Linked DNA regions of Homo sapiens. The protein of the gene in region 1 purifies or fractionates together with the protein of each later gene. This does not show direct contact. Each region holds a gene or a part of one and is shown in the gene's direction. Other genes may lie near its edges. The genes, in order: PDHA1, DLD, VDAC1 and RPA3.

Region 1 (7,027 bases):
TGAAACGTTTTTCCTCTTTCACATGAATGGTTCCTATGTATTTAGGAAGTTAAAGTTTTACTTTTTTTTAATTAATTTTTTTTTTTAGGCTGGAATGCAGTGGCACAGTCATAGCTCACTGTAGCCTCAGGTGTGTGCCACCATACCTGACTAATTTTTTAATATTTATTTTTGTAGAGATGAGAGTCTCATGTTGCCCAGGCTGGCTTTGAACTCCTGGCTTCAAGTGGTCCTCCCACCCTGGCCTCCCAAAGTGCTGGGGATTATAGGTGTGAGCCATCATGCCCGGCCTAGTTTTTATTTTTTAAAATTTGAGTGGGTTGTTCGTGGTCTCTGTCAGAGAGGAATCCCATTTAACAGAGAATCTTTTTATGGCTCTCCAGAGAAAATGAATGGTAAACTTATCTTTTCAACAAGCTCTCACTCAGAAATGATACACACACACTTCTGATAGGACTTTTAGCTTCTTTAACTTTGTTCCTTTCACTCATATCAGTGGTTCTTATTTTTGAGATACACAGTAATGAAGCCATGGGAGAAAGTATCTAAGTAGCTTTCTGGCAGTCCTAATCTTTGCAGGCGCAAGATTACAGGCGCATGCCACAGCACTGGGCCCCTTCTTGCTCTTTATTGTATAGCATTATCCTGCCTCATTGTTTCAACTCTAGGATTGAGAAAGAAGTTACCTTTTCTCTGTTACTGTCGCCTGGCTGGTTTGGACTCCTGCCTTCCAAAAACTGCAGTTTCTGTAGTTGTATTTGGAAATTTATTTCACAATACAATAAATTTCTGGCCCCACAAAATATTTATTAACTGCCAAGAATAACACATCTGTTTGATTGCTAAATATAACCATTGATTTGCTGTTTCACCTTCTCTCAGCTTTACTTCTTCCCAAATTCCTAAATTTCCTTCACTTTTTCTGAGATACATTAGTGGACTGTCTCTGCCTGTAAGTTAACTGAAACACTGATTCCTAGTATTTCAGTTGTTTTCCTCCAGCACTGTCATTGTCTGTGTTTGTTGGCTTTGTCCAATAATGGTCTATTGAGGGGTGAAGATATACGTAATTAGCTTTCTGCCTATTGGCTTGTACACTCCAGGGTATACTTGGCAGATCAGTCTTAACTCTTCTCACCAAGATCAGTCCAGTGCTGGATTAGGTAAGGTATGAACACATCAGATGTGCTTTTTATGGAGAAATCATGTTGGTTTACACGTCAGTGTGTGAGAATGTGGCAGAAGGGAGCTAAAATAGTATGATAATACTACTGGATAAATTTTGTGGTCTAACCTAAACCTTAGCCATTACATAGAATACTTTTGCTGTGAGCAGGTTTGCTCAGTTGTAAAACTGGAAAGGAATCATTTCTCACCCCCCGCCTCCAAGCTTTTTACCTCCAAACAGTGACAGCCACCCAAACATCAAGAGAACAGTGTTTCAGAGAACATTTCTACTGGGGCTTCAGGAGGAGCCTGTCCAAGATTTAGGCTGTTCAAATTATAAATTATAAAACAGCTGGCTCAAGCCCATTGTGTTTAAGTCAGAGAGTGCTAAGTATCTTTTCTTTTGTCTTGTCTCCCTAAAGTATTTATCTCATACTTCAATCAATTTAAAATATTTTTTCTTACAGATCCAATTTGATAGAAGAGTCAAGTTTGCCTAGAGTGGAGATTAAATCATAGTTTTATTTGAAGTATAATTTTGGCTTGCTCAAAATGAACAGTATCTGGTTATGACTAAGAATGGCATGAAAAGGCCAGACGCAGTGGCTCATGCCTGCAATCCCAGTACTTTGGGAGGCCAAGGCAGGTGGATCACCTGAGGTCAGGAGTTGGAGACCAGCCTGGCCAACATGGTGAAACCCCATCTCTACTAAAAATATAAAAATTAGCCGGGCGTGGTGGTGGGCACCTGTAATCCCAGCTACTCGGGAGACTGAGACAGGAGAAATCACTTGAACCCGGGAAGCGGAGGTTGCAGTGAGCCGAGATCGCACCACTGCACTCCAGCCTGGGTGATAAAAGCAAAACTCCGTCTCAAAACAAACAAACAAAAGAATGGCATAAACAGACACAGCTCACAGATGATCTAGTCTCTTTAGCCACTAATTTCATTATATTCTCACTATAATTTCTTTGAAAACAAAGGATGGGTTTGTTTTTTGCCCCTCTTTGCGCTGCTTGCCTTCAGATGCGGGATAATCCTGTTTCATTGGCCAAAGCATGGATTCATTTTGGAGGCCAAGGAAGATGCAAACACAGTGCACAGGGTGGAAGAGAAGCCTATGAATATGTTGGGGCTTATTAAATTTCCATAACTTCATTCTGATAACTGATTATTATACTTTCCAAAATAGCTGACAATTAAAAAGTACTGATTTGTTTGTATATTTTTGTCTTTTAAGGCAAGCAGAGTGCTGGTAGCATCCCGTAATTTTGCAAATGATGCTACATTTGAAATTAAGGTAAGAGGTGTTTTACTTTGTTAATAATTTTTTCACAGGTACACTCTGATATACAGTTTTACCTTTAGAATAGAACATTTTGATGTTCATGCTTAGTCATCATTTTCTTCTAAATGTTCCAGGATCAGAAGTTCAGAGAAGCTTCACGAAAACTAGAATTTATTATTAGCAGCTTGCTGTTGTTCTGTGGGGGGAAGGGGGAGGAGCTAGAAAATGAAAATAAAAATAAAAGCTTATTCAAAAGTTTGGAATGTAATTCAGTGAAATATTTGAATAAGAAGAGTCTTAGTTGTTTCTTTGAAGGTTCTTTCAACCTATAACTCAGTTGGCTTCTAGGGGCTTTCAGTGAAAATCATCTTAGAAAGATTTCCTTCCCCCAAGCCCCATCTCATTGCACAGTGAGGTTTATGGATTTAAGGAACAGAGGCGATATGAAGCATTACTGATGTGCTCCTTTGCAGTTTTTCAAGTTCAATATTATTTGCAATGGAGTTAGATCTTAGAGTGGTCAACAGTGTTTGCAATGTAGTATGTGGAGGATAATAACTACCTTATTCCATTTCAGAAATGTGACCTTCACCGGCTGGAAGAAGGCCCTCCTGTCACAACAGTGCTCACCAGGGAGGATGGGCTCAAATACTACAGGATGATGCAGACTGTACGCCGAATGGAGTTGAAAGCAGATCAGCTGTATAAACAGAAAATTATTCGTGGTTTCTGTCACTTGTGTGATGGTCAGGTGAGTGGTAGGTTTGTGGTGGAACTGTGTTATTTAGGTACTGAAGTATGGCTTGTACTTATTGGGCTTTACCCTGCCATATGTATCAGAAGAGTTTGAGGCTGGTAATGTAATTTTCTTTTATTTATTTATTTTTTTGAGACAGTCTCTCTCTGTCGCCCAGGTTAGAGTACAGTGGTGATCTTGGCTCACTGCAGCCTCTGGTTAGAGTACAGTGTGATCTTGGCTCACTGCAGCCTCTGTCCACTGGGCTCAAGCAATCCTCCCACCTCAGCCTCCCGAGTATGTGGGACCACAGGTGCACACCAACACACCCAGCTAATTTTTGTATTTTTTGGAGATACGGGGTTTCACTATGTTGCCCAGGCTAGTCTCAAACTTCTGGGCTCAAGTGGTCCGCCCACCTTGGCCTCCCAAGGTGCTAGGATTACAGGCGTGAGCCACTGTGCCTGGCTGAAGCCAGTATTTTAGAATTAAAAAGTAGAATGCCAAAACCTGCTATGAAGCTTAGGCTAAAGAATTCATTCACACATAACATTGCCAGTTTTCTGTACCTGTTCTTAGAGTTTTACTATTTTAAAACTTTCTGGCACTATGATCGCCTGTACTGTATATAATTTGGAGAGAAAGGATTAGTTTGTTTTTTGTTTTGTGGGCTTAGGTCAAGGGTTAGAGTCAAATACCTACAAGGGCCAGCCAGGTAGAATAAATGAGTGAAGAAGGCTAGGTATACAAAACAGAAAATGGTGACAGGGACTCATGCTGAACTGGCACCAGCATGCCCTACCCAGAGGAATGCCATGACTTGGTTCCAGCCAGTTGGTGCCATGTGGAAATCAGGGGTAATGTTTCCTGTTTTCCATGTCTAAGAGAAGGCGGAAGTCTGGATTTTCATGTGAAATTCCCCAGTGTTTTAATGTTGACATCTGATGTAGGCTTTTCTTTTAGGTCATCATACAGGAGAAAGGAAGGAAGTGGCACATGTGTGGGTTGCCAGTTTATTGCTTCTGGTTTGGGCCTTCCACTCTGTATTTTGGTGGAAAATAGCTACTTTCTCTGGTTATTAATGACAGGTTCTACTAGCCCACATATTTCACTGTGGTCTAGGAAACGTTTTTATTTAGAAACATGTATCATATTGCCTCATAGTTTCTCCTTCCTCTAACACAGGAAGCTTGCTGTGTGGGCCTGGAGGCCGGCATCAACCCCACAGACCATCTCATCACAGCCTACCGGGCTCACGGCTTTACTTTCACCCGGGGCCTTTCCGTCCGAGAAATTCTCGCAGAGCTTACAGGTTTGCTGTTGATTTACAGAAAGGGGAAATGAGTGGATTAAGTTTTTAAATATCTGTCATTAAGATGCTATTATGAGTTAATATTTGTTAAAAATTTTAAGTTTCTTTTTTTAACCCTCTCTCCTTTGGTGCTCTGGTACTTCTGTTGTGCTCTTGAGTTAACTGACCATTTGTGAAGTTCTCTGGCCCCTCAGGTAAAAGTTTAAAACAGGTTGGTGCTATAAAATCACAGTAGGTTTGGTTATCATTCAAGCATGCCAGAAGAAGTCTAGCAGTCATAGAAAGTAAGTTCGGTTGAAGCACTCCATGGTATGCAATGTAAATTCTAGAAATCTTCTTAATATTCCCCTTTTCTTTGTCCCCCGTGACTATTTGTTTGTTTTGGTGGTTTTTTTTTTTTTTTTTTTTTGAGACTGTGTCTCACTCCGTTGTCCAGGCTGGTGTGCAGTGGTGTGATCACGGCTCACTGCAACCTCCACCTCCCGGGTTCAAGTGATTCTCATGCCTCCACCTCCTGAGTAGCTGGGACTACAGGCATGCACCACCACACCTGGCTAATTTTTGTATTTTTAGTAGAGATGGGGTTTCAACATGTTGGCCAGGCTGGTCTCCAACTCCTGACCTCAGGTGATCCACCTGCCTTGGCCTCCCAAAGTGTGCTGGGGTTACAGGCGTGAGCCACCGCACCTGGCCTGTTTTGTTTTTTTGAGACAGAGTCTCGCTTTGTTGCCCAGGCTGGAGTGCAGTGGCCTGCCTCAGCCTCCCAAAATGCTAGGATTACAGGCGTGAGCCACTGTGCCCGGTCCTCCTCCTCCTCCTTTTTTTTTTTTTTTTTTGAGACAGAGTTTCACTCTTTCACCCAGGCTGGAGTGGCTGGAGTGAAGTGGTATGATTTTGGCTCACTGCAGCCTCCGCCCCCCGGGTTCAAGCAATTCTCCTGCCTCAGCCTCCTGAGTAGCTAGGATTATAGGTGCCCAACCACCACACCTGGCTAATTTCTGTATTTTTAGTAGAGACCAGGTTTCACCATGTTGGCCAGGCTGGTCTTGAACTCTTGACCTCAGGTGATCCACCCTCTTCGGCCTCCCAAAATGTTAGGATTACAGGCGTGAGCCGCCGTGCCCGGCCCTCCTTGACTCTTGAACTATGGTTGTCCCTCTATATATCCAGGGGATTGGTTCTAGGACCCTCGAGTATACAAAAATCCTCAAATACTCAAGTCCCAAAGTCAGCCTTCCATATCTTCGGGTTTGCATCCTGAGAATATTCTATTTTCAATACATGTGTGGCTGAAAAAAAATCTGTGTATAAGTGTACCTGTGCAGTTCAAACCCTGTTCAAGGATTGAATATATTTAGTGTACTAGTATAGGAGAGGTCCTAAGATGTTTGTAACTGGCCAGAAAACCCAGAAAAGTCCAGGGTATCATCTGGATGGAACATCTGAAGGAAACTAAGTGACTAGAGAGTAGGAAAAGCTGGAAAGGTTGAAGCACATGGAACTAGTGAAAGGACAAGGAGAAACATGTGTTTGCCTGGAGGGACAGGTACTTAGACGACTGAACTGGCCTCTGTGTTCTAATGGTTGAGCCTCAGAGTACATATTTGGGGTGCGGTTTGGTTTGCTTTGTAGAGTTGGTTTGTTCTGCACATGTGTATGTTCTGCCATTTCCAGGACGAAAAGGAGGTTGTGCTAAAGGGAAAGGAGGATCGATGCACATGTATGCCAAGAACTTCTACGGGGGCAATGGCATCGTGGGAGCGCAGGTAGTCAAGGACGAGGATTGTGTGCTGCTTTAGATTTGGCCCTGGACTTTGTCTTCAAAAACTTTCACAGCCCCAGACAACTTTTCCTGAAGTAGTACAGCCATGTGCTGCACAGTGACGCTTTGGTCAATGTCGCATATATGATGTTGGACCCATAAGATTATAATGGAGCTGAAAAATTCCTGTCGCCTAGTGATGTTGTAGTGGCACAACACATTACCTTTTCTACGTTTAGGTACACAAATATTTTGCCTACAGGATTCAGTAGAGTCACATGCTGTGCAGGGTTGTAGCCTAGGAGCAGTAGGCTCTACTATACAGCCTAGGTGTGCAGTGGGCTGTACCATCTAGGTTCGTGCATTACAGTATGGTGTTCACATGACAAAATCGCCTAGTGATGCAATTCTGAGAATATATCCCTGTTGTTAAGTGACGCGTGACTATTTTGGGGGCTTGGTTTGCTTTTAAAGACCTAGTGCTTCATATCCTACCGTTTGAGAGATGAGTAGATTTGGATGGTGATTTATAATGTTTCCTTTTAGGTGTCTGCTGTTTTATAAGTAAGCAGGAACCTCTAGCAGTGGAGCCATACCTTCCCCTTCCTATTTATATTTCAGTACATTAATTGCTTTATCTTGTCAACTTCATTTTGGGGTCCTTGTTCTCATCAGTTAGTGAATGATGAAGAATTAACAGCACAAAATTATATCCGGACTGTTTCTTTTCCTTTCTAATATATTAAGATTCTATTATGTGT
Region 2 (6,543 bases), on another chromosome or scaffold:
CTGTAGCACTTTATTCTCTGTTATGAATTTTACATATTTGTCTATGTCCCCTGCCAGAATATAAGATCCCTGAGAACAGAGATTTTTGCTTTGTTTACTAATGTATGCCTAGAAGCTAAAATATTGCCTACCATGTAGTAGATGTTCAACAAATGTTGAATGAGTAAGTTAATAAATGTATGAAGTTATACATATTTAACACAGGGTCAATTTTAAACCTCGGAGCTTCTCATAGGAACATACTAGCGAAAGAAGAAAATGTTTTACAATAAATTATTAAGATGATTTCGTAAACATTTGCTATAGAAACTTTTATGATTATTGGGTTTTTTTAATTTATTTGCAGGGTTCAGTTTGGCAAAGACTTGGTGCAGATGTGACAGCAGTTGAATTTTTAGGTCATGTAGGTGGAGTTGGAATTGATATGGAGATATCTAAAAACTTTCAACGCATCCTTCAAAAACAGGGGTTTAAATTTAAATTGAATACAAAGGTTACTGGTGCTACCAAGAAGTCAGATGGAAAAATTGATGTTTCGTAAGTATACATCATTTGTTTTTGATGTATCATCCCTGTCTCTTTAAGCAAAACACTCAAGTTTCAAAATCAGTTTAGCAAATATAGGGTTTTTTCTAACTTAAGGTCATTTTATTACTTAATATAACTCAGTTGCTTATCAAATTATTGCATTAGCACATTGAAATTTATGATTAGGTTAATGCTAGAAAGAGAATCCAATATTCTCATTGTTGTGCCTTCTTATAGTACATTCAGAAAAATTTAAATTCCCAATAATAAGTAAAATTGAATCAATATTTTTAGGCAGATACATGGGGAAATCAATAATAAAAGATTGCTTACTATATGTCTGGTACTCTACTGATTAAATACTTTAATGGCATTTAACTTATTGAATTAGTTTTTAAATAAATATTTAAATTAAATAGTTAATAGTATTTAAATAGTTTAATGACTTTTACTCAAAGATAAGAAGCTGAATTCATTGACTAATTAATGACTAACTTGTCACACAGCTAGTGGGTGGCAGTCAGTAGTTGAATTTGGATTTCTGTGACTCAAAGACCTGTATTCTTAACTGCTGTTTTATTATACTGTGGTTTTTGTGAGATTTTAATAACAGACCTCTAGATTTTAATGATAGATCTCTTTCATTGTCTGACTCTTATGTTTATATTCAAATAAACTTATATTGTTAAAAATGTCATCAGTGCCGGCTGGGCATGGTGGCTCACACCTGTAATCCCAGCATTTTGGGAGGCTGAGATGGGCAGATCATGAAGTCAAGAGATCAAGACCAGCCTGGCAACATGGTGAAACCCCGTCTCTACTAAAAATACAAAAATTAGCTGGGCGTGGTGGCGCGTGCCTGTAGTCCCAGCTACTAGGGAGGCTGAGGCAGGAGAATCTCTGGAACCTGGGAGGTGGAGGTTGCAGTGAGCCGAGATTGCACCACTGTACTCCAGTCTGGCGACAGAGCAAGACTCTGTCTCAAAAACAAAACAAAACAAAAATGAAAATGTCATCAACACTTGAGAAATTGCTGGCCTTAAATTTCTAAGCCTATCAATTTATGTAGGTGTGTATTTAACATTTATACACTGTTTGTTATCTAGTATTGAAGCTGCTTCTGGTGGTAAAGCTGAAGTTATCACTTGTGATGTACTCTTGGTTTGCATTGGCCGACGACCCTTTACTAAGAATTTGGGACTAGAAGAGCTGGGAATTGAACTAGATCCCAGAGGTAGAATTCCAGTCAATACCAGATTTCAAACTAAAATTCCAAAGTAAGTTGGATAATTGTCTGCATTTTCAGTAATTTTAAAATTGATTTCAAACAGTATTTTGAAAAGTAAGATTTTTATGCTTAAAATATGTATTGGCTTTGGGGAAGAATAGTAAACTTACAAAATGTAAAATAAAAAATAACTGAATTTTACTCAAAGATAAGCTGAATTCATAGATTTTTGAAGAGCTGCATTTGATGTATTTTTTGGTGACTTGTTTACTGGAAACTTTTGTTACCATAATGTAACTGAAGGTAAGTAGCTGTGATTTCAGAAATTCATTGTGTTTCTTTTGATTTCTGTGGTAGTATCTATGCCATTGGTGATGTAGTTGCTGGTCCAATGCTGGCTCACAAAGCAGAGGATGAAGGCATTATCTGTGTTGAAGGAATGGCTGGTGGTGCTGTGCACATTGACTACAATTGTGTGCCATCAGTGATTTACACACACCCTGAAGTTGCTTGGGTTGGCAAATCAGAAGAGCAGTTGAAAGAAGAGGTAAGTCTGAACATGGGTGGTTTTAAGCCAATGTGTGAGTTGTGCCAATGACATTGGTGGTTGAGAAACAGCATTTTATCATTATGCTAATATATTTAACAGCTGTGAAATATTGTTTAGCTTATATATTTTTCCCTTGTTAGCATTATAAAGAGATCATTCACAGATTTATCAGCAGTAATTGAGAGGAAGAGAAGTTGCCTATATTAAAAAACTAGTAATTCCAGATCTTTTATATTTGGCTTTGAAATATAACCAGATGGACAGACATTTGTATTTGCTTGTATTCGTGCCTGAGATATAGTTCATTAACCAGTCTTCTGGTCTTTCCTTTCCTTCTATGTGCTTTGCGAACAATTCCCTTCTTGGGATTTATTTTCTGAACAAATGGTAGATGATTTTACAAATTGGAAAGAACTTTTCTGGCAGTTACGTAGATTCTTTTTTTCTGACTGTCACAGGGTATTGAGTACAAAGTTGGGAAATTCCCATTTGCTGCTAACAGCAGAGCTAAGACAAATGCTGACACAGATGGCATGGTGAAGATCCTTGGGCAGAAATCGACAGACAGAGTACTGGGAGCACATATTCTTGGACCAGTGAGTATTGTAAAACCAGAGAAATCCCATTAAGATTTCTAGAAAGCATTGCTGTTTATTAATTATAAACCACCTGGTGTTAGTCTGAGGTTGCTCATTTCCAGCAAAACTTTGAATATGGCTCTCTGTGCATCATTTCTAGAAGGATACCAGCAGCACTCTCACAGTCTTGCCCACTGTATCATCTACTTTGTCCTGCAGCCAAGATTCTCTCTTTAAAACATACACCAGATTATGCCCCTTAAAATCCTCCAGTGGTGCTTTTCAACTTCAGATTGTTACATCCAAGGCCTCACTGAATCTGTTTGTGCCTACTTCTCTGACCTCTTCTTTTTCTGCTCTCTTTTACTCATTAATGCCATGTCACATGGGCCTTCTCTCATTTTCACAACAGACCAAATATTTGCATTTTAGGGCCTTTGTGCTTAAGATACCCTCTGCTTAGACTGTTCTGCCTCCAGATCTTTGAATGGCTGGCTCCTTATTATTCAGGTCTCAGCTCAAATGTTACCTCCTAAGGGAAGCCTTTCCTACCACTGAGCCTAAAGTATGTATCTTTCTTGTAGATATCTCTTGTATCTGATGTAACAATAATGAGAATAGAATATTTGAGTGCTGTGTCACTTTAGTATACATTTTGTTATTTTTACATCAGCTTTTTGAAATAGGTGCTGTTATTTTTGAGGTGAAGAAACTGAATGAAGCACAAAGAACCAATGAATGGTTAAGGTAGTAAGTGGTAGATATGAATTGAAGGCCCTTTGGCTCCAGAGCCCAAGCTCTTCTGTGTCACCTTTTCTATTAAGCTTTTCCTGACTTTTCTTCAACTGATAAAGAAACAGATTTAAGGCGTTTTTAAGATCTAAAAGCTTCCCCTCAACAATTGCTATCCTATTAGCATGTAGTTTTTGCCTTGGAAGCAAATTTACTTGGCTTGTTATTTTAAAGGGTGCTGGAGAAATGGTAAATGAAGCTGCTCTTGCTTTGGAATATGGAGCATCCTGTGAAGATATAGCTAGAGTCTGTCATGCACATCCGGTAATTATTAACAACATATAGAATTGATGGTTGCCTAAATTTTCTTCTGACCCACAAATATTTGGATTTTAATTTTAAATTTCTTCCCTTGCAGACCTTATCAGAAGCTTTTAGAGAAGCAAATCTTGCTGCGTCATTTGGCAAATCAATCAACTTTTGAATTAGAAGATTATATATATTTTTTTCTGAAATTTCCTGGGAGCTTTTGTAGAAGTCACATTCCTGAACAGGATATTCTCACAGCTCCAAGAATTTCTAGGACTGAATTATGAAACTTTTGGAAGGTATTTAATAGGTTTGGACAAAATGGAATACTCTTATATCTATATTTTACATAAATTTAGTATTTTGTTTCAGTGCACTAATGTGTAAGACAAAAAGCTACTTATTGTAGCATCCTGGAATATCTCCGTCAACTCATATTTTCATGCTGTTCATGAAAGATTCAATGCCCCTGAATTTAAATAGCTTTTTTCTCTGATACAGAAAAGTTGAATTTTACATGGCTGGAGCTAGAATTTGATATGTGAACAGTTGTGTTTGAAGCACAGTGATCAAGTTATTTTTAATTTGGTTTTCACATTGGAAACAAGTCAGTCATTCAGATATGATTCAAATGTCTATAAACCGAACTGATGTAAGTAAACGGTCTCTCACTTGTTTTATTTAACCTCTAAATTCTTTCATTTTAGGGGTAGCATTTGTGTTGAAGAGGTTTTAAAGCTTCCATTGTTGTCTGCAACTCTGAAGGGTAATTATATAGTTACCCAAATTAAGAGAGTCTATTTACGGAACTCAAATACGTGGGCATTCAAATGTATTACAGTGGGGAATGAAGATACTGAAATAAACGTCTTAAATATTCATTTACTGGTTATCATGAGTACGTGTTGAGATGGTCATAGTTTTTTTTATGACTACTTCTAGTGTATATTCTAATTTCTTTTCTAGGCCTGAATGTATCTTTATTTTCATGTTATAGGACAATATTAAGGCATTTTAAAGGTCATCATCCTTTCATCTATTTTAGATACACCTACTAAATGTTTAATATATACTTTTGGAGAAGTACAACATAAGGGAGTCTTTAATCTGTGTTTTCCTTGGCTGGGTTAATGACTGTTTATTTAAAGAGTGTTGTAAAATTGGATGTGTGGTGTTTAAAATGGCCATGTCCTGAGGAAACTTAAGTAACAAAGTACTAAATGCTAAGTAGGCTTTTGCATATTGTAACTAAATTTAAGAATAATTCAGATTAAGTAGTTCTGAAATTTGGTATAGATAGCATAGATTGTCTCATGCTCATGAGTGACATAATGACCCTGGATTCTGTTACATACTTCTAAAGAAAATTGATTGTTGTCTTAGGAGGCAGTTAACTTGGCTGAACACCAACTCCACACTCTGTCTTGTTTGTAGGTGGCAGCAGCTGAAATCTCTTCTCAGTTGTTTTAGCTTTAGCTATGCTGCTGGAAGTCTTTCCCATGCAAGTGTGTAGTTCAGGGGTCAACCAGAGTTTGGGCAGAAGGAAGTCTGCCCCTTCTGTGCCTCCTGTTTTTTGGGGGTTTCCCCTTTATGTTCCAGCTGTTGTGGTTGCCCCATATTCTGCCTTCTGATCCTTAACCAATAAAACTTGGCTTTTGTTTCCCCCTCAAGTGAGAACCCGTTAAAAATGAGACATTGAGCCAGTGCTGTTCACTTTTTAAGTGCCAACTTCCCTCTACTTTCCACTTGTTTATAGTTGTTTCCAGTGCCTTTAGTTTTTTCTAAAATATATTTGTTCAGAGTTTGCAGTTGCTATCAGCAGGAGGGTTGGTCTGATATCTGTGTGCTACTTTGCCATTATTGGAAGTGAACTCTGCATCTTTTTAAAAATTTGAAATCCCGGTATCATGTGAAGTGCTGTTTATGTAAATCTCAACATATCCCTTACTCAGGGAAAAAAAAGTTTTTAGTTAGGGAATAGTGAAATATAATTTAATATGGAATTCTAGCTGTAGAGTTAAATCCATCTTTAAGTGTTTACATTCAGTATGAGAATGCAAATTTATCTGTATGGGGAATAAAGTCCTAGGAATAAAACAAGTTTTAAGTGTTCACTTACTGTTATCTACTAAGCTGTCAATATTTTTGTGGCTTGTGAAGAGTGAAATTAATTGTCCACTTCATTGAACTGATTAAAATTAGTAATTTCAACTGGCTGGGAGCGGTGGCTCACTCCTGTAATCCCAGCACTTTGGGAGGCCGGGGCGGGCAGATCACCTGCGGTCAGGAGTTTGAGACCAACCTGACCAATGTGGTAAAACCCCATCTCTACTAAAAATATAAAAATTAGCCAGGTGTGGTGGCAGGCCCCTGTAATCCCAACTACTCAGGAGGCTGAGGCAGAATCACTTGAACCCAGGAGGCGGTGAGCTGAGATCATGCCACTGCATTCTAGCCTGGCGACAGAGCGAAACTCCGTCTCAAAAAAAAAAAAAAAGTAATTTCAAAGTGAGATCTTTAGTTGTTTAGCTGAAAAGGAATGGAGAGTGTTTCTACTGTTCTAAGTAAAATACTACATAATTGCTCTAGTAGATGATGGGGTATGACCATTTTTGCTA
Region 3 (7,027 bases), on another chromosome or scaffold:
GGGACCAGTCCAGATGTGAAGGCTGCTGTGTCTGGGAGGCGTCTCTTCTGTGGGGTCAGGGGAGAGTCGTGGGGAAGGCTCTGGCTCCTAAGGTCCAGGGAGGTCTTAGGTGACCCACAGATATTACCACTGGACTGCTTCTCCTTCTGCTTCCCCAGCCCCCACCCCGGCTGAGTTTGTGGCCCCCCTGGGAGGCATAGCACTGAAGAGGGGTACTTGGTTCACTGATGGTTTGTTAACCCTGTCGGGTGGAGAATGTTCTGGGCCCGTTACTGTTATGTTCTGTGTCTGCCTGGGGTTACATTGCCTCAGCTTTCAATCCAGAGTTGTTCTCCTAGGAAGGTGTCAGGTAAAGGGTATTTCTTGAGGTTCTGGTGGGTGGTTTCCTGGTCTATCCCGGGGGGATGCACCTACAGGGTTAGTTTGGGAGGGAGGAACAAGTGGGGAGAGGGGAGCCCCCAGACTGGAAAGAGCCAGTGGCGGGCAGTGTAAAATGGATCTTCCCCCCTCATCTCTCTACCCTGATACTAATGTGGGCTGACCTGTCCATGGTTTCAGCCTGATCATGTGCAAGAAATAACACAGCAGCGACAAAAATAGGACAGAGTAAACAGCTCGCTGCTCTTCTGTCTGTGCTCTGACACAAAAGTGAGCTGGGATAAAATTAACAAAGCATCTGGAAAAAGTAAAGTAGGACCTGGATCACAACTTCACAATTTAAAATTGTAGAAGTTTATACTGTTTCTTTTACAACATACTCAGTGAGTCTGTGGCCTCCTGCAATGCCTTTGAAGTTAAAGCTTTGGCCAAGAATGCAACTTCCATTGATGATATGGAAGCATATCATGTCATATGACATGCCAGGAGCATGTCATATATGTGTTTATTTGTGTGAATATATATACATGTAACTTCAGATGGTATATATGCAGATGAATTTTGATAATTTAGGTATACTGTATTTTAAAACGAATGGAATGGTCCTTCTGGTTGAGACTAATGATTCTGGGGATGGAGAAGGTGCAGGAGATGAGGCTTTCTCATGCATGACCCCCTCTCCTCCTGGGCAGAGCACACCATGTACAGTCCCAGATTAGGATATTAATCCTGTGTACACAGCATATACAGCATGCCAAAGCAAAGCCTTCCAGGAATGCAGTGTGGTCCTTAGGGCAAAGACTATTTGAGTTACTCTCCTTCCTTGAACACCGAGGTGCTTAATAAATGTTTGTTGATTGACTTAGTGATATGCAGCAATCCCAAGTAGTCCTTTGATGGTTGGTTTTAAAAATAAAGTTACACTGGAGCTCAATAAATATTTGTTTAATGTATTTGGAGGATGTATTTGGGTTTTTTCCATGTGAAGAGCTGCCAAACTGGTTTGGTTTTACTGTATTCTCTATGAGAAATATGAAGTGGGTTCCCATAAAGTCCAAAAGTTTTGTGAAAAGTTGGGCCCATCCTGGCATATAGTAGGTACTCCATAAATATTTGTTGAATGAATGAAATCAGAGCCACATGGAAAATGATGTTCCCATGAAAAGCTCTGATTTCTATTCGGTACATTTAATGTCCTAGTAGCTGACATTTTGTAAGATGATATGTTTTATTGGCAACAGTCCTACAATTCAGTAAAGTCACTGGCTCATGGGAATGTGTCTTTGACAGTTTATTCATTAAGCAAATATTTCCTGACTCCTACTCTGTTCTGGGCCTGGGCTCAGTCCTGGGGATGCTGAGGAGGAGAGGTCTAAATTGTTGATCATCTGTCAACAAAGACTCATTGAGTGTCTCAAGCTCTGGCCACAAAATGAAGGACAAGACAGCAAGGGCTTCTTGGCCCATCTGGGAGGATAAGCTACCTGGTAGTCTTAGTGCTAGGTGATTTTTATTGGTTGCTAATTACATCTAATAATTGTTATTGATGGAAAGCTAATTTCCCTAATTATCAATGCATTTATTCTGGTGATTCTTTTATCATAGCAGAAGATGGCTGTGCCACCCACGTATGCCGATCTTGGCAAATCTGCCAGGGATGTCTTCACCAAGGGCTATGGTGAGTGTTGCAGAGAGGGGGTGCCTTTCAGCTCACAGACTGAGTTGGCATGTTTGAGACTTTACCGATAACTGTTTAGGAGACCTGGGTAGGTCAGCTGTTCTGAACTTTCACGTGAGGGAAAAAAGAAGCTTTCATTTGTGTGGCAATTGTAGCAACTTTGGTTGTGCACCCAGTTGGACAGGCTCCTGCATTGGTGCTGTCAAGTGGGTATTCTTGTTTTCTTTTCCAAGTGTGGAGCAGCCCTGTGGAAGCTGCTGCAGTGGAGCGCGGCTTCTATATTTAGCCTGTGCTTAGGCACATGCCCACGAGGCCCAGTAACTGTGTCTTTGCCAGCTGTCAGGTGTCTTCTTATCAGACCCTGCTGGGAGTGCAGGTGGGACCCAGGTGGGGGTGCCCATTCTGTCTGCTGCTGTTCCATGGCAGCTGAGAGCTCCCCCCACGAGCAGCAGCAGAGACTGGGTGCCCTCAGCCCCTGTGGCAGGAGTGTGCTTCTTTTTAAAAAAGCATCCTGAAGCAACCATGAGGGAGGCAGAGGTGCTGTTCTCTAGTTATTTAACCTATTGACAGTTGTCTTCTTCTTTCTTTAGGATTTGGCTTAATAAAGCTTGATTTGAAAACAAAATCTGAGAATGGATTGGTAAGTTGTCCAACCCACATGGAACATGAGTATTTATTTATTTTTATTTTATTTTATTTATTTATTTTTGAGATGGAGTTTTGCTCTTGTCGCCCAGGCTGGAGTACAATGGCGTGATCTCAGCTCACCACAACCTCCACTTCTTGGGTTCAAGCGATTCTCCTACCTCAGCCTACCGAGTAGCTGGGATTACAGGCACCCGCCACCATGCTCGGCTAATTTTGTATTTTTAATAGAGACGGGGTTTTTCCATGTTGGTCAGGCTGGTCTTGAACTCCCGACTTCAGGTGATCCGCCCACCTTGGCCTCCCAAAGTGCTGGAATTATAGGCATGAGCCACTGCGCCTGGCTTATTTTTATTTTTAAAAAAGATTTTAGATTCAGGGTGTACATGTGCAGGTTTGTTACATGGATGTATTGTGTAATGGTGAGGTTTGGGCTTCTAGTGTACCCATTACCCAAATAGTGACCATTGTATGGAACGTGGGAATTTGTTGTAGATCAACAAATAACTGTCGTGACCTGGCCCGCAAAGCCAAAAGAAGGTACTTTTTTTTTTTTATTCTGGCAGTTTTTGTGGTTTTCACATTCATTCCATTTTCTGCATGATGGGTGGTCCAGGGGAACCATGCCAGTAGGCCCCCAGTTCAGCAGCGGGTAATAGAGGAGAATGGGTCAGGTCTCAGTTTTAGTTTTCCTTGTGCTTCTTATTTTCAAATTCACCTGCATTCAACCACATAAGTGTTTTTAAAGTAATCTTAGTAGTCCCTTTGAAATTATGTGTGCAGTAATTGTTGGAAGAAAGAAGTTTTGGGTTTGAATTACCGCTGTGTCAGCTTTAGCTCAGTGCTTTTTCTCTGTACTGCCCTGGAGCCAGGATGGAAGGGAGATGCTTTCCTGTCCAGACTGAAGAGTTACAGGGAGGAAGGAAGCTGTCTGCTGACAACAAATTCCCCATAAGATTTCTTTACATAGCAGGCTCCTTTACTCCCATCTGTACTTTAAATATCTATTTGAATTGTAGAGTTAGCCTTGGCCCCCCCACATTCAGGGTCTTGCCTCTTGCAGAAAGGCAAGTATAGTGTTTAGGAGTGAAGTGAAGCCAAGTGAGTGCTATGGTGCAGGCTGTGACTCTTCTCTCTCCTTTGAAGGAATTTACAAGCTCAGGCTCAGCCAACACTGAGACCACCAAAGTGACGGGCAGTCTGGAAACCAAGTACAGATGGACTGAGTACGGCCTGACGTTTACAGAGAAATGGAATACCGACAATACACTAGGCACCGAGATTACTGTGGAAGATCAGGTAATGGCTGCTGTGAAAAGATGTGGATTTATTAATTCGCATCTGCCAGCCTGCCTTGTGACTAAATCTAGTGGCAAATTTCTTTTCTGTTCAGCTTGCACGTGGACTGAAGCTGACCTTCGATTCATCCTTCTCACCTAACACTGGGTAAGAGTTTCATCTGTTTTCTCCACAAGGATGTTCTCTGATGTTGCAGGTGGTGGAAGCCCTTTGTGACAAAATGTTTTGGGGGCTGACAGCACCTAAAATATGGTCTCCGAGACCTGGCGATTTAAGTCCTCTGGTTTTGATTTGGTCCCAGGGGTCGTATCCACATCTATGCACTAACAGACTATGCTATAATGAGCACTTCCTAATTCAGGACTGGTGTTTACCCAACAAACGATTTCTAAGTGCCACCTGTGCTTGGCCCTGTGCCCATCTGGAGATCTAAGGGTGCCCAGGCCATGATTGTTACCCGCCAAGGAGCTCACTTTCTAATAGAGGATTCAGACCAGTGTTTAGCCGTGTTTTGTAATAAGATTCTGCATTTTGTTAGTGTTCTCCTAGTTTCTGCCATGGAGGTTGCAGGATTTCTGTTCAGTAATAGCCATTTCATGTGAGTTAGGCTGCTGGTGATGTAAGTGGCTATGACCAAACGGGAGTGGGTGACATTTGGAAGCAGGGCCTAACTGGTCACTGTTGCCAGCCTCATTTCTTCAGGCATGGAAGTCCTTCTCCCAGCTTCCTGCTGCTTAGGGACACTGAGACCCTGTGGGTGTAACTGCAAGGTGGCTCCTGAGGCTGCACTTTCCCCAGGCCTTCTGGCCACAGATGTAATAGGCTTGTTAGTTCTTGACCATCACTTGGCATGATAGCATGGTAGTCTGCCTCAATTCCTGGGTGCTTTTCAAAGTGCCTAGAAGGAATTATTCCCTTTTAGAATACACCCTTGTTTTTTTCCACTCATATTGGTGGGTCTTCCAAACCTGGGGAAGATGTTTTATATAGTGATGTTAGGGTCAAGGGCATGTACTGAATTTCAGTTTTTAAAAATTGTGGGCCGGGCGTGGTGGCTCACGCCTGTAATCCCAACACTTTGGGAGGCTGAGGCAGGCAAATCACCTGAGGTCGGAAGTTTGAGACCAGCCTGACCAACGTGGAGAAACCCTGTCTCTACTAAACATAAAAATTAGCTGCGCCTGGTGGGCGCATGCCTGTAATCCCAGCTACTTGGGAGGCTGAGGCAGGAGAATCGCTTGAACCTGGGAGGCAGAGGTTGTGGTGAGCCAAGGTGGTGCCATTGCACTGCACCCTGGGCAAGAAGAGCGAAACTCCATCTCAAAAGAAAAAAAAAAAAAAGAGTCGGATGCAGTGACTCATGCCTGTGATCCCAGCACTTTGGGAGGCTGAGGTGGGTGGATTGCTTGAGGTCAGGAGTTTGAGACCAGCCTGGGCAACATGGCAAAACCCCATCTCTAATAAAAATACAAAAATTAGCCAGGCATGATGGTGCGTGCCTGTAGTCCCAGATACTTGGGATGCTGAGGCATGAGAATCGCTTGAACCCAGGAGACAGAGGTTGCAGTGAGCTGAGATCGCACCACTGCACTCCAGCCTGGGCTACAGAGAGAGACTCTGTCTCCAAAAAAAAAAAAAAATTGTGGTAAGATATACATATAAAACTTAACATCTTTAAGTGTGTAGTTAAATGGCACTATGAATTTTTCAGTTTTGCCATTCATTTTTTTTCTTTCTTCCTTTTTTCCTTTCCAACAGATATTTATTAGAGGGAGGATCTACCAAGTGCAGACCTGTGCTGGGTGTGCAGTGCACACAAGTGACTGGGCACACATGGTTCCTATCCTCTGGAGATGTCGTCTTATAGCTTGGCTATAGATGATCTGAAGAGACCATTGTTACGGGGCTGATTTACTCTCATTCCTCTTCGCTGCTGTAGTTTCTCCTGCAAGAGCACTGCCTTTTTGCAGTGCTGTGCACTCTCCCCCCAGGAACTCTGCCATGGTATCAGGGAGCGGTTATCTGGAAAGATCCTGGGATAGGATGAGAGGCTGGAGGATGTGCCCACATGCTTGAATTTGCTGCCTGGGACTTTGCCTGCTGCCCTGGGATAGCACACTTTGGAATTTGTAGGTGATTTCCTTCCCATGACCTTAGGGAGCTTTGCAGAGGTCTCCAGGCCATGCAGTATAAAACACAAAGGAAAGTTTTTTGGTTTTTTTTTTTTTTGGGTTGAGGGGGACGGAGTCTTGCTCTGTCGCCCAGGCTGGAGTGCAGTGGTGTGATCTCAGCTCACTGCAACCTCCTCCTCCCGGGTTCAAGTGATCCTTTTGCCTCAGCCTCCCAAGTAGCTGGGACTACAGACACGGGCCACCATGCCTGGCTAATTTTTGTATTTTTAGTGGAGACGGGGGTTTCACCGTATTGGCCAGGCTGGTCTTGAACTTCTGACCTCGTGATCCACCTGCCTCGGCCTCCCAAAGTGCTGGGCAGATTCATGTGTTTCTCCTGCCTCAGCCTCCCGAGTAGCCGGGATTACAGGAATGCACCACCACACCCAGCTAATTTTGTATTTTTAATAGAGACAGGGTCTCTCCATGTTGGTCAGGCTGGTCTTGAACTCCTGACCTTGGGTGATCTGCCCACCTCAGCCTCCCAAAGTGCCGGGTTTACAGGCGTGAGCCACTGCACCTGCCCCCCTTTTTTTTTTAATTTACTTTTTATTTCAAAATAATTTTATACTTAGAAAAAAATGTGGCAAAAATAGTATGCAGAGTTCTCCTGTGTTCTTCACCCAGCTCCTAATGTTAATGGTTTACGTAACTATAATGATCAGAATCAGCAAGTTAATGTTGATATCATATAGTTAATTAATCTGTTGTCACAATGACGTCTTTTTTCTGATCTGTGATCCAGTTCAGGTTCCTAAATTGCATCTAATTGTTAAGTCTTCTCTAATCTGGAATATTTTCTGACTCTGACACTTTTGAAAAAGAGTGGCCAATTATTTTGTTAAGATGTCCCTCA
Region 4 (7,027 bases), on another chromosome or scaffold:
AAATTCCTTAATCTAATAAACAGAAATTCAAGTTGGGAAGGACTTCGGGGAATACTCCTTAAAGGAAGCTGAATGCGGGTCCACTTCTCTGCCACATAGAACGTGGATTTACTTGATAGCTGAAGCTCCATCACTTACCTGGCCTATGAGATAACCATAAATATGGAACTAGATATTGAATGTAGAACTACAGAAAGACAGAAAGAACCTGGGGCCCTGAGTCTTAGTGCACTACCACATAAGTACTAAGTTGCACAGCTGTGGACTTCTTTCACATGTGAGAATAAGCGTTTGTGCATTAAAGATACTTTTGTTTATGCAGCTAAACCCCATCTTGACTTAAACACTATTTCTATTCAAAATGGTACTGAAGGCTCTATCCTAGGCAAAAGGTAAGAAAGATAAATAAAATATGTAAGAATTCTTAAGAAACAAAACTATAATTATTCAAATATGAATAGAAAATTCCAAAAAAAACTGATAGAAAATTCTTAAAATGGCATTTCTATATACCAAAACAATCAGTTAAAATCTTTAATTTAAAAAATGATACCATTCATAATAGCAACAAAAACAAGGTATCTAGGAATAAATCTAAGCTAAAAGTCAAAACTTTTATGTAGAAAAGTATGAGACCTTTTGGAAAGATTTTAAGAGGACCAAAATGGCTCAAGGATAGTAAGAGTTGACATTCAGGTGTTACTTTTCCTGAAATACATCCAAGGATACAGTGCAATTTTGATCAAAATTCCAACACAGTTTTTCCTGGAAATTCATAAGCTACATTCTATACAGAAGAGCAAAGAGACAAAAATAACCAAGACATTCCCGAGAACACAGCCCCAGACATCAAAAGTTATGATAAGCTACACTATTAAAGAAAATAGGTAGTGGTTCAGGGATAGAAAAATAGATCCATAGAATAGAATTGACTCCACACATATCTGTAAACTTAAGGTGACAAGTGAAGGTGGCAAAAAGGTGATACAGTCAAATCACATTAGGACAACTGAAATTAAAACAAAACAGAGATTGGAGACTTATCTGACAACATACATGAAGAGTGAATTCTAGATGACGGACTATTAAATATGAAAGGCAAAACTCTAAACATTTTAGGAAAAATAGAATACCTTTAAGAGTACGATGTATCAAAGAATTCATAAATGAGATTTTAATGGACTTTTCTCCTACATTAAACTTAAGGGGGAAAATGTTTAACTATATTAAAAGAGGTCTTCCTAATAAAAAAAAAAAAAGGATGGAATGAAGGAAGGAAACGGAAAGATAGGCCAAAAACAGACAACACTTGTACCATTACAATATCTCACTAATAAAAAGCTCTTAAAAGTCAGTAAGAAAAAGAAAAATCAAGGAAAAAAAGATAAACATAAATAACCAATAAAAATCTGAAAAAATGTTCAAACTTTTCAGTAATCAGGGAGTGCAAATTAGGGTCACGACAAAAAAACACTTCATATCCATCAAATTGGGGGAAAAAACTCCAAGAGTTGCCAAGAATATACAATAACTGTAAACTGTCTTATACTCCAGGTAAGAGAGTAAACTGGTACCACCATTTGGGGAAATCATTTTTTTACTAGTGGCAGAGATCCAAGTTACCCCAAGTTACCGGTGGCCTATCCTCACGGGTCAGTAGCAACTTCAGTCCTTGCCTCCTCAGACGAAAAAATTTGACTGAGGGGCATAAAGCAGAAACAGAGACCCAGGCAAGTTCCAGAGCAGGAATGGAAGTTTACTTTAAAAGGCCTTAAAACAGGAAGAAAGGAAGGTGTGCTTGTTAGAGACCCAAGCGGGAATGTGAAGGTTAAAGAGAGTAGGTCAAGTGTCCGATTTAACCGTTGATCCTTTTTTTTTCGTTTGTTTGTTTTTTTTTTTTTTGAGAGGGAGTCTCGCTCTGTGGCCCAGGTTGGAGTGAAGTGGCGCGATCTCGGCTCACTGCAAGCTCCGCCTCTCGGGTTCACGCCATTCTCCTGCCTCAGCCTCCCGAGTAGCTGGGACTACAGGCCCCCGCCATCGCGCCTGGATACTTTTTTGTATATTTAGTAGAGACAGGGTTTCACCATGTTGACCAGGGTGGTCTTGAACTTCTGATCTGAGGTGATCCACCCGCTTCAGCCTCCCAAAGTGCTGGGATTACAGGCGTGAGCCACCGCGCCCGGCCCTGATCCTAGGACTTTTACAAGCTTGTCTATTTCCCATGATTCTTTCCTTAGGATAGGCTGCCGGCAGGCACAGAGCCCTCCTTAGCCTTGGGAAGTGTTTTTAGGGAGTTACATGCACGCCCATCTGAGGCTTCCTTCCTTTTTCCGGTGGAGTGTACCTGGAAGATCATACTTTACCATTTTTGTCTCTTAATATGCATGCCCAGGAAGCTGTTTCTCCCTCGGGTCTACATTCAATTAACATTTTGATAACAGGTGTGGACCATCAGGAAATGGCCTCTCCCTGGCGCTGCAGAATTATCATTTTTAGAGAAGCAAATTCGGTAATTGCCAAACCATCCCCCAACATTTCTAGTGGGTTGGGGGAGAGCCCACTACTGTCCCACTCATGCCTACCTGTAACAGAAAAAAAAATATGATCTACGTACATTCGTCAACATAGATGAATCTCAAAAACAAACAAAAGAAGTCAGAAGATACATACGTTTCTGTTTATATAAAGGTCAAAGACTGGCAATATTAAACAACATACCATTTAGCAACGCCTGCATGTGTGATAAAACCACCTAGAAAAGCTTAGGAAGCTTAACACAAATTTCAAGATAGTGTTTACTTATGGCTGTAGCAAGGAGGGCTTCATTGGGGAAGTGCAAACTGGTAAAATTTACTGGTAACTGGTAAAGTTCCATTTCTTCAGCTGAATGACAGGCCCCATGGATTCATTTCATTTCTCTCAAAACTATGCAAATCGGCTAGCTATACTTTTTTCTGTACATCATGTATTTTATAATATTTTAAGTGACTCAAAAATACACGAAAAAGCTGTTTTAAATTATCTTCCTGCTCATCTCCCTGTTTTAAAAGAAAGCCTTTGCTTAAAAGTGGTCTTTCTAACTGCAGGTAAACAACGACATTAACATCTGGTACTCACAGGAGTGCTCTTTAAAAAAAAAAAAAATCACTATTACAGGGTACGCACCAAGGCTCACACCTGTAATTCCAGTACTTTGGGAGGGAGACGGGGGAGGGAGGGATCGCCTGAGCCCAGGAGTTTGAGATAAGCCTGGTCAACATGGCGAGGCCCCATCTGAACAAAAAAAAACAAACAACAAAAAAAAAATCTTTATTAGCTGGGTGTGGTGGTATGTGCTTATAGTCCCAGCTACTTGGCAGGCTGAGGTGAGAGGATCGCTTAAGCCTACGAGTTAAAGGCTGCAGTGAGCTATGTGCATGCTACTGCACTCCAGTCTGGGTGACAGAGAGAGATCTTGCCTCAAAAAAAAATGCTATTAAAGACATTGATGTGTGTACTCTCCCCTATATAATGCACATCAACTTGCTTTGCAAAACAATGCTAAAGTACAAAAGACTTAAAGCTGTAATATAAAATAGACTTTACTGACTTGCACCAATACAACCACAACTTTTTTATACACCACTGACACACATTCTACATCTGTTTAATGAAATCCTTTAAAGTACCGTTAGTGAGTAAAACTAAGACAAACCTATTAAGTGCTAAGGAAACACTAAGGGAGACTATCATTTAATTATCGTACATGAGATTCCAATCTTAAATTGCCACGTGAAGTCTCAAATCGGATCTTTTTTGCTTAAGGGAATTTGAACGATGACAATTCTGTAGCTTTGGGCCAATTCACAGACTCAGTTTCCACAACGTTATAATACCCAATTAAAACTTCTGTCCAATTTCCACCGTACCGTTTGAAGGTATTTTTATGTGCACTCATTCTAGAATACTCCTGGCAAGGCCGCCGGCTTCGGGTCACAAGATGAGCCAGGGACAGATTGGAGACTACCCCCAAATCTCCCAGGAATCGGTTATCTTCCAGACCTCCAGATCGCCCTCCAGAGTCTCGCAGTGTGGAGGGCAACGACAGAAAGACTGCTGAGGGGGTTTAAACTGTTGAGTCAAACATATGGCCAAAAGTCAGAGTCAACTGGGACCTTGCAAATCATTCCGCCTAACCCTTCGTTTTGCAGATGGGGAAAACACGCCTCAGAAGGGAGAACCCTAGCTCGGGGAACCCTAGCTCGGGGTCTAACAACGATTTAAGCTTGTCTCCCCTAGTACTGGCCAGTGGTTCTTCCCCGTTACCCATCCTTAAGTGCTTCTATTGGCTGCCAACACGGAGGGGTTAGCGGGGTGAAAGAACCGGCGCCTCCGCAGTGTGGCCAGGTTGGGCTAAAAAACGTCTTAGAAGTAATCGGATCAATCTCTCTTCTTACAGGTGGAGAAAGTGGAGAAAGTAGAGTGACGCAGCTAAGGGAGTAAATCGACCCTCAGCCAACAAGTGGCAAAAGCCTGAAGAAAGTGATCAAGATCACTGATGACCCCGCTGCCCATCTCCAAGGGGGCGGGTATCACAACCCCGACGCCACACCACGTATCATTCCGCAAAACTCCCGCGCCTCCCACGCAGAACTGGCAAGAGGGAAGGCGAGACAGCAGTGAACAGCTGGTACGCAGCACCCACAGCACCGCGGCAGCAGCTAGTGCCGACTCCCGCCTAGCTCTTTTGACTCTGTTCGCGGGAAGAATGGGGAAACAGTAAGGTTGCGGCGCCTCCCGCGAGACGAGGTACCTGAGGCTGGCCCCGCAGTCCCCCGCCGCACCAGCACCGGAGCTTCACACCCCACTTCCGGGGTCAAGTCACCGCCGGGAATCCTGTGATCGCAGAAAGGTAGTCTCAGGTTCCGCCCCTATCCAAGTCCCGCCTCCACTGCCTCTCGCCCTGTATCTGTCAACTTCCGGGACGCCGCGCGTCACTAAGCAGCCAATCTCCACTTCCGGACTCATCCAGCCCCTTCTCCACCCCTTTCAGAGACAGCGCGATTGCGATTTAGGTTTCCGCGCATTTAATTGGCGAAGCTGGAGCGCTAGTCTTCGCTGATTGGTGCCGAGAAATCTGCCCCATAGACACCCGCGGGGCGCACAGTTTCAGTCGTCCGTGGGTTTCCCGCCAGCCGCAGTCTTGGACCATAATCATGGTGGACATGATGGACTTGCCCAGGTCGCGCATCAACGCCGGCATGCTAGCTCAATTCATCGACAAGCCTGTCTGCTTCGTAGGGAGGCTGGAAAAGGTGTGCGGGTTCGCAATCATGGGCTCCCAAGTCCGTAGCTGGAGGGAGGGACCCCGCCTGGATAACGGGGGATGAAAAAGGACGGAAAGCCTCCGATCACTGCGCCCCCGACTCCTTTATTTTGCACAAGGAACTTTTTGGAAATTCTTTAGCCGTTGTAGCCCCATTTTGGCGCTCTTTTATGGCACGGAAACAAAGTGTTTTCAAATGCTGAGTTCTAAATTCCAGTGCCCGTCGCCTCCGTTCTAGCCGTGCTTACGTAAGGGAAATTATAAACACCACTCCCACATCTACCTTCAGATTTCTTAGTTTACTCAGACGTGACGGACGCAGACAAAACTAATCTGCTGGTTTCCTTCTCTTCTGAAATTACTTATTTTTGCAAACCTCGTTTCCTCGTTGTGATCGCTTCTCTGTAAAACATGCCTTGGTTGTCCGCTTTGGGTCCCGTAGTAACGAGTTATTTAACCCCAGTATTAAAGTGAAGTTCCCTCATTCTACAGGCGAGAAACAGGCCCAAAGTCTTGGAATCAGTGACCTGAAAAGCTGAGGAAAAGAAAACTATTATATAAAGACTTATTTAGTAGCTCATTTCATCCACACATCCTCTTCCTTAAATGAGTGTTGCTCTGACTTCCCAAGTAGGGAAACTGAGTAGGAGTGGTAGGTGGTTGACTAAAATGCTCAGAAACTCGGCAAATGGCAAAGCTGGCATTCAAACGCAATCTGACAGCGCTCTTTACAGCTGCTTCCCAGGAGTAGGACCCAGATATTCTAGCAACCAGTTCTCCTTTTACTTCATCATGCCTGTTTTTTAAAACATACCCTCCGTGGGATATGTACTGTCTAAATCATGAGTGCCAGCAGATTTCACTTTTAGGGTGGGCATCCTTTAATTTGTTATCAGAATAGGGTTGCCATATTTAGCAAATACAGAACCTACTTAACACTACAAAAAAAATCCTTGTTTATCTGAAATTCAGAAATTAACTGTGTGTTCCATGAACAGATTTGATAACATAAGATTATAATTTGATCCAATAAGTTGAATAAACTGAATGAATAAACTGTTCAAGAAACAGTTGATTTGTGCTCAACTAAGGATCAATGTACTCATCTTTAGTCAAACTTTGTTGTTGTTTTAGTGAGATTTTAATTATATGTTTCGTTTTTAGATTCATCCCACCGGAAAAATGTTTATTCTTTCAGATGGAGAAGGAAAAAATGGAACCATCGAGTTGATGGAACCCGTATGTTTAAGTGTTAATAAGTCTCTTATATATTATAGTTAATTCTTCATCTTGATTTGGTTTGTTGCCGATGTTTCTAATTTTTGCAATGGATTTAAAAAGGATGAGCTGGTAAAACGTCCCTGGCTGTAAAATTTAATTCTTGTACTATTCTCTCATTATATTTCCTTTTACATTTTTAACCAATGATTTTTTGGGCGTCATGATTTTTGAACATATCCCATAAATGTTGGATAACAATTCTCATTCCTTATGAAAGACCATAAAATCACATAAGAAAAATTTACGTTGCTTTTTTCTTCCTCAAGAGGTTTTTTGTTTCGTTTTTGTTTTTTTGTTTTGAGACAGGGTCTCACTCTGTTACCCCGGGTGGAATGCAGTGGCACCATCATGGCGCACTGCAGCCTTAGCCTCCCAAGATCAAGTTGCTCCCATGTCAGCCTCCCCAGTAGCTGGGACTACAGGCATGCTTAACCATGCCTG

What was found.
Region 2: the proteins of PDHA1 (region 1) and DLD purify together in Homo sapiens (affinity purification with mass spectrometry; 6 studies listed by BioGRID and IntAct, with this or other methods). This does not show direct contact.
Region 3: the proteins of PDHA1 (region 1) and VDAC1 purify together in Homo sapiens (affinity purification with mass spectrometry; 2 studies listed by BioGRID, with this or other methods). This does not show direct contact.
Region 4: the proteins of PDHA1 (region 1) and RPA3 purify together in Homo sapiens (affinity purification with mass spectrometry; 2 studies listed by BioGRID, with this or other methods). This does not show direct contact.

What each region holds. Positions count from the first base shown.
Region 1 is NC_000023.11:19,346,904-19,353,930, forward strand, and holds part of PDHA1 (pyruvate dehydrogenase E1 component subunit alpha, somatic form, mitochondrial isoform 1 precursor), read left to right. Parts: intron 1-2,408; coding exon 2,409-2,468; intron 2,469-3,033; coding exon 3,034-3,207; intron 3,208-4,356; coding exon of another isoform or gene 4,357-4,377; coding exon 4,378-4,504; intron 4,505-6,178; coding exon 6,179-6,270; intron 6,271-7,027. UniProt on the Homo sapiens protein: The pyruvate dehydrogenase complex catalyzes the overall conversion of pyruvate to acetyl-CoA and CO(2), and thereby links the glycolytic pathway to the tricarboxylic cycle.
Region 2 is NC_000007.14:107,915,160-107,921,702, forward strand, and holds the end of DLD (dihydrolipoyl dehydrogenase, mitochondrial isoform 1 precursor), read left to right. Parts: intron 1-346; coding exon 347-537; intron 538-1,634; coding exon 1,635-1,805; intron 1,806-2,113; coding exon 2,114-2,303; intron 2,304-2,764; coding exon 2,765-2,902; intron 2,903-3,850; coding exon 3,851-3,940; intron 3,941-4,034; coding exon 4,035-4,100; 3' UTR 4,101-6,039; downstream 6,040-6,543. UniProt on the Homo sapiens protein: Lipoamide dehydrogenase is a component of the glycine cleavage system as well as an E3 component of three alpha-ketoacid dehydrogenase complexes (pyruvate-, alpha-ketoglutarate-, and branched-chain amino acid-dehydrogenase complex).
Region 3 is NC_000005.10:133,987,975-133,995,001, reverse strand, and holds part of VDAC1 (non-selective voltage-gated ion channel VDAC1), read left to right. Parts: intron 1-1,983; 5' UTR 1,984-1,989; coding exon 1,990-2,056; intron 2,057-2,646; coding exon 2,647-2,696; intron 2,697-3,847; coding exon 3,848-4,000; intron 4,001-4,094; coding exon 4,095-4,147; intron 4,148-5,758; coding exon of another isoform or gene 5,759-5,867; exon of another isoform or gene 5,868-7,027. UniProt on the Homo sapiens protein: Non-selective voltage-gated ion channel that mediates the transport of anions and cations through the mitochondrion outer membrane and plasma membrane.
Region 4 is NC_000007.14:7,638,587-7,645,613, reverse strand, and holds part of RPA3 (replication protein A 14 kDa subunit), read left to right. Parts: intron 1-4,438; 5' UTR 4,439-5,195; coding exon 5,196-5,294; intron 5,295-6,469; coding exon 6,470-6,544; intron 6,545-7,027. UniProt on the Homo sapiens protein: As part of the heterotrimeric replication protein A complex (RPA/RP-A), binds and stabilizes single-stranded DNA intermediates that form during DNA replication or upon DNA stress.